Linked DNA regions of Homo sapiens. The protein of the gene in region 2 purifies or fractionates together with the protein of the main gene of each other region. This does not show direct contact. Each region holds a gene or a part of one and is shown on either strand. Other genes may lie near its edges.

Evidence for each region.
Region 1: the proteins of DGUOK (region 2) and VSNL1 purify together in Homo sapiens (affinity purification with mass spectrometry; 3 studies listed by BioGRID and IntAct, with this or other methods). This does not show direct contact.

What each region holds. Positions count from the first base shown.
Region 1 is NC_000002.12:17,589,196-17,592,695, reverse strand, and holds part of VSNL1 (visinin-like protein 1), read right to left. Parts: intron 627-3,500; 5' UTR 622-626; coding exon 460-621; intron 1-459.
Region 2 is NC_000002.12:73,954,380-73,957,879, forward strand, and holds part of DGUOK (deoxyguanosine kinase, mitochondrial isoform a precursor), read left to right. Parts: intron 1-2,745; coding exon 2,746-2,861; intron 2,862-3,500.

The DNA of each region.
Region 1 (3,500 bases), about 56 Mb from region 2:
GAGTATCTTTTCTGGTAAAAAAAAAAAAAAAAAAAAAAAAAAAAAAAAAAAAAAAGAGAGAGAGAGAGAAAAAGCCCTCTTGTGTACTTTTTCTTTAACTGGGAGAAGTACATATACCTTTAACAGGCCAAATAATGCTGTAATTAGCAAACTGTCAATAATTATCAGCAAACACTCTTCTCTGAGCTTTTTATGGTTCTTTCACCAGATGCTGTCATTCCTTGAGCTCTATTCAGTGCTTTGATTTAACAATTACTCTTTTTGTTCAGAAATTGCTTATTTTGGGAACAACATATATACATTTGCATTTTTAAATGTTAATTTTTCTTTCTGGATGGAAAACAGCCAGAGTTGAAACAAACTAGCTACTTAGAGTTATAATTCCATGTGAGGGTACAATTTCATGAAGGCCATAGTTTCTGGCCTAAGGAATAAAAACAAGGTTGAAAAACAACTTACCTTCACATAGAGCTGCTGAAATTCCTCGAGATTTAGCCTCCCACTTGGACAGTCCTTGAGAAATCCTTTGTACCACTGCTTGAGTTCATGCTCATTAAACTCTGTGCTCTTCACCAGGTCCTCCATCACTTCAGGGGCCAGTTTGCTATTCTGCTTCCCCATCCTGCCTGAAGAAAAGCAAATTAATTCAATTAGCGCTGTGGCTGTGATCATTTCAAACTTGGTTAGGAGCCAAGCTAGAGTTCTGAGCAGTCCCATGGTCGGAACTCCCTCCAGTGTGGCTGATGCATATCTTCCCAAGTCTGCCTCCTTCTACTTGGTATTCTAGAAAAATATATGAGTGAAATAGACTCTTCTGACAGTTCCAAGGGCTGTAGCATTCACTCTTTACCTCATTGTGTCATCTTTCATATGGTGTTGACTCCCAAATGGAAGGCAACCATCCCTTTTTATGCTATTCATAGTAAGCATATAGAAGTTGTTTTTCTTTTCCTTCTACAAATTACACTTTATTAACACTTGCCTCCCAGGTGTTTAACTCTACATTTAGTTTAATGGGATACTCAGTGGGATTACTGACAAGAACAATGAGAAGACTTTATAACTAAATGATCAGTAAGTGGCTTGGAATATCCAATCAGCAATATTAAGGAGTCTCAGTTGGTCTGGTTCAAGTTGGAGCTTTTTTCCCCAATAAAAACAGCTATTTCTATTAGTCACACTAATTCTCTATTTCTCCTCTCATAATTAGAAAGTTCGTACAACATTGTCTTCAGAGTTGACAAAATCTTAATGGTTTTCTTCTAGGGATTGGTTGGGGAGTTTTTGTTGATATTATTCCAGACTGCTATTATTTCTGATTTTGAGTTAAAGTAATAGTGCATAAGATAATGTTACCTATATCCATTAAGCACCAGGTTGTGTGGCCAACATCACAGCAGGGAGTAGGGAGACAGAGCAGGCTTGAGATAATTCCTGATTTTTCTTCCTGATTTGGCCAATTACTACATGTGTTACTTAGGGCAACGTTAATTAACTGCATTATCTTCAACTTATTCATTAATAAAGCAGACATAATAATGAAGCTCTTTCAGATTCATTGTGATGGCTGATTAACAAGTAAGTAGGTAAACAAAGGCCAAAAAAAATTCCAAAATTAAAATAACTGCAGGAAAATTAAAGATAATTTTAAAATTTTCCCTTTAAAGTTGCTTTATAATAAATAATAATAAGACTATTGCTAATAATAATAATAAAAGAATTAACACATAAATTAACCCCAGATTGATTTAAAAAGTCAAGTTAAACTTGAAAATTGGAAAATTTCCAGAATCTGGAAAGTGCCAGATGATCTTTCAAATTCAGTTAAAAGATACTGAGTTAGGGTTGAAGAATTAACCAAGTGAACCTAGTCCTTCACTGTGCTTGAGACAAACTCTCTTTCAAGCTGCAGGCATGTCTACACTTGCAATAGCCTGGAAGGGGTAATCTCATCACATACTTTATTGTCATGATTTTTTAACTTCTCCTAAAACAGATTCCACACCCATTGTCAGTAACCTGCCCCAACATTGGCCAATTCTTTCACTGTAATGAAACTAAGCCACTCTTGCTACTTCCAGGGAAATTTCCACTCAGCACAATCTCGGCAGCACAAAATGCAGTCAGATGATACCATTAAGATGGCCATTTACCCTCCAAACTCGTCAGCATGAGAAAAGGGCCCAGTATCAGCAACTCTTCCCTTTGTCATGGGGCTTCTCTACTTATTTTTGCTCTGAATTCAAGTTCCAAATCTCTTATAAGCAACTGTCTATTAATTATAAGTTACTGTGGAATTCCACAGCTGGGTGTGGAAATCAAGTGGGTACTCAGGTGTCAGGTTTAATTAATGTGAGTAAGAAAACTCTAATTCATGGTTATCCTGAAAATCAAAAGATGTATTATTGTGAAACCTTTCAGTACTTTACTTTGGTTTTTTGGTAGAGAATTACAAACCTTCATTCTTAAACTAGAATCTCACCTAAGAAAAATAGCTATTTAATATTGAGTGCTGGCGATGGAGAAGGCACTTAATGGAACACCTCACAAATTTCATCTCCTGCTCAGCAATCACCGAGCAATCAGGATTAGGGGAGCTCCCTGGGGCTCAGAACGCTTATGGTAACTTGTATAAGAGCATACAATTAATGCATGGCGGAGCTAGAATTTGAACCTGGATCTATAGGACTCCAATGTCCAATCATAGACTGGTGGATGAAAGACATTTCAGGAGAAGGAACAGGAAGAGCGAAAGCAGGGAGGCTTCAGAGAACTGAATCAGTGCCTAGAGGGGATGAAAAAGGATCACTTTGCCAGCCTGGCTGCCTTGTTTGGAAAAGACTTAAATTTACCAAACCACAAGCTCAGAAGTGACTTTGTATTAAAAACCACCTCCCCCAAGTGCCTTTAGAAGTTCAACAACGTATCAGCTTCTTTGTTAGGCAAGGAAGCTTGGCTTCTCCATGGGTCACTTGTGATGTCTTAAACTGTTCCAGTTGACTTTGGAGAGGGTGGTCTCTTACACACACAGGAAATATTGTCAGGACTGTGAATCACAGTTTGGAGACTCAAGTGCATAACTTCATGCTTCTTGTATGGGTCTGCACCATCACTCAGGTGTGTTGGGCAATGGTTGAATCACACAGAAAGTCAGGTTCTGGCCTGGCTCAGAATGGCATTGCCACTGCCCTCATAGGCCTCATCAGATCTTGCCTTGATTAAAGATTGGCCTCCCCACTGGGCTACCTGACTCCAACCACTCTCCTTCTGCACAGCTGCCTGAGTGAATTTCCAGAATACAAACCTCATTGATCTACTCTCTAAAAGCCTCTGTACTTCTCCTTAGTCTCCATGATGCAACCTCATCTCCTTAGCGTGGCTCAGGTCCTGCCTACTTATATCCTCGTTTTCTGCCAATCTGTCTTTTCTCATGTGTCAGTGATTATAAACTATTATAGATTCCAGGATTGCATGCTTCCACACTTCCATGGCTCTGCATA
Region 2 (3,500 bases):
GCAACTCAGGCCGGGCACGGTGACTCACGCCTGTAATCCCAGCACTTTGGGAGGCTGAGATGGGAGGATTGCTTGAGGCCAGGAGCTCAAGACGAGCATGGTCAACATAGGGAGACCCCATCTCTAAAAATTTTTTTTAAAACACAAGCAAGCTAACAATTTTAAAACTCAAAAGAGAAATAGCTAGGCCTCAGTGTTCCTAGCCAGCCCCATGGAATCAAGAGAGTGCAGCTGATCAATGTACATCAAAAAGCCAGGCCCTACCTGGGACTGGCACAGCATGGGGACAGCATGCAGGAGGTGCATGGGACAAATGGCACCTGGGTTTGGGCTTGAGAGGCATAGTGAAAAGACCCACTAGCAGTCACTTTCCATTTTCTGTTTCTGACTCCAAGCAAGCAGAGCAGCAGTTCTTCTTCCTGGGTGGGACAGGTTAAGAAGACCAGTAAAGGGTCTCTCCCTCGCCACTTGTAGCTACACTATCTTTCCTGTTCACATTCAGGTGTGTCTTCCTCATGAGGACTGAGATGAAGAGGGGTCAGACTAAAGCACTGTTTGCACGGGATTTTTTTAAATAGAATTTGTTATAGCGATATCAGTAAAGCAAGAGTTATGCCAAATGCTCATAGTAGGAGTTTACTTCGACCTCTTTTTTTTTCCCCACTCAATACTGCCACCAGTTAAGACTTAGACTTCTCAGGGAAATCCATTTGCTCTGTTAAGGAAATTAATAGTAAATAGAAATATGTTAGCTTATTTTAATAGATCAATGTTAGTGTCAAGGTTTGTCTGCAAGCAGTGAATGAATAATTATAAATAGCTTTCCTAAAAAGAATTGTTCTGCCTTTGTGTGTGTACTTGGAAACATAAAGTCACATTTTAAAAAAATTTATTTTCACGAAACAGACAACATTTTTTTTCTCAGAAAGGAAAATGAGATGATAGCTTTGCTATGCTTAGAAATCCTAAAGCTACCTTTCTGGTGGGAATATAAATTGGTTAACCTCTAAGGAGGCAGTCTGGCAGTATATAATTGCAAGTGCATATACCTTTTGATCATTAATAAAATTTGTTTCTATAATTTCATTTCCTTAGAGAAAAGGTAAGATAAGAGGGAAACAGCAAAGACTCCCAAGTCTTTGGGATTATTGTGTACTACATTTGGAAATTAAGTTTTCATTTCTTAAGTAAGTTATTGAAAGAGGGAAGTCCTGGCCGGGCACGGTGGCTCACGCCTGTAATCCCAGCATTTTGAGAAGCCGAAGCGGGCAGATCACGATGCCAAGAGATCGAGACCATCCTGGCCGACATGGTGAAACCCCATCTCTACTAAAAATACAAAAAATTAGTTGGGCGTGGTGGCTCCCGCCTGTAGTCCCAGCTACTTGAGAGGCTGAGGCAAGAGAATCACTTGAACCTGGGAGGCAGAGGTTGCAGTGAGCTGAGATCGCGCCACTGCACTCCAGCCTGGCAACAGAGCAAGACTCTGTCTCAAAAAAAAAGAGTGAAGTCCTAAATCAGTGGGTTAATCCATCTGTTCTTCCAGGACAGATGATATTGAATAATGAAATGTTTGTCAAGCAGAGAGAGGACTGAGGATAATTCAGTCAAAACAAACATTTGGAGCAAAAATTTTGAGGTGTGAAAGAGCCTGGCCTGTTCCCCAGGAAAGAGGTCAAATCTGGCTAAAGCAGTGAGTCCAGGGGAAGAGCTAAGGCAGTTGAGAAGTAGGAGGGGTAGCTTTGTGTGACAGGTAAAGAAGATGTCATTTTCTGAGCCAGTGTGCATCAAACTTCACTACCAGATGAATGCAGAATAGAATTATGTACACTCTGCAAAGCAGCGGGGGAGGAGAGTTAGTCTCAAGCCTCACTTGTTTTTCCACTTCTTTGTTTTATCTTTGACCTGTGCAAATTTTACATTCTATTCCTGAGTGAATGTTTGGTATGACATGAAAGAGATATTTCAAATTACCTAACATTTTATAAATGCAATGCTATTCATACATACTGCTTTGAACCCTGGGGCTATGGCTGTAGGCGGTAAAGAGCCTGTGAAGTATTTTCAGCAAGGAAAGTCATGTCATTATATTGCCGTACTACAGACGGGTGGAGTGAAGGGGAAAAACTGGAAGGAGGGAACAGCTTTTGCCAGGAGCTCAATACAACTTACCTCAGTGACCTGTGGATGGGTAGACAATGAGGAAATAGAAGCCCACAAGGACTGCACTGCTAGTACCTTATGAAGGCAGGAATTTACTCCTGGACTTTCTGACCTTAAGGCCTGTACTCTGTCCATATGCTTCCCTGCCTCCAGGAGGCAGAACCAGAAGGCTCTTGCCATAATCCAGGTAAGAAGTAAAGAGGACCCGACCAGGGCAGAGGTGAGAGGAGAGGCAAGGAGAGAACATTCTAGAGAGATGAAAGAGAATTGAGTGACTTCCCAGATATAGTAGGGAGAAGGAAAAACAAGGAAAATTCCAGGTCCGTGGCTTGGATGACTGGATGGATGATGTTCATCATTAACCGACTTAGGATACTTCAGAGGAAGAGCAGGTTTAAGGTGGAGATGGGAAAAGAATGGTGTAGATCCTCTGATTGCATAAGAAAACAAGACAGCAGAAGCAAAGGCATGGCTTGTAATGCCCAAGATAGACATTATGGGTGGGCCTCAGAGCCCCCGAAGACTGCATTGTAGCAGCCAAAACAGCAAAGAGCTCATCAGGGCTTGGGGACTGTCTTTTAGGTTTGTTTGAAGAGACTGTACCAGAGGGCCAGGGAGGAGGAGAAAGGAATTGAGCTGGCCTATCTAGAGCAGCTGCATGGCCAACACGAAGCCTGGCTTATTCACAAGACAACGAAGTAAGTGGGGAGAAAAGAATGTATCAGAGACAGAGACCTGGCTCCCAACAGCCAGTTGTTAAAAACAAGTTCAGCATGCAGCCCCCTGTAGGAAGGTTCAGAATATACTGGAAATGGTTGGAAATGTCAAGCATTTTCCAACTCAGAAGTTTAATATTGCTGGACACCGTGGCTCACGCCTGTAATCCCAGCACTTTGGGAGGCTGAGGCAGTCACCTGAGGTCAGGATTCAAGACCAGCCTGGCCAACATGGTGAAACCCTGTCTCTACTAAAAATAGAAAAATTAGCCAGGTGTGGTGTCAGGCGCCTGTAATACCAGCTACTCGGGAGGCTGAGGCAGGAGAATCGCTTGAACCTGGGAGGCAAAGATTGCGGTGAGCCGAGATCGCACCACTGTACTCCAGCCTGGGCGACAGAGTGAGATGCCCAGAAGAAGTTTAATATTGAATATAATCTTTACATTCCAAGGGCCTTTTTATTAGATTGTATTTCTCCAGCTTTTTCTTTGTTTCTTAACATTTCCCTAGACTGAACATTGTGATTGATGGTGATAGTTGGCTCAGCATGAAGGGCTGAAAATGTTAGAGAAATTGTCAGTATTACTAAGTTGGCATTCCTGGTTTCTGCCTGTCCTCCCT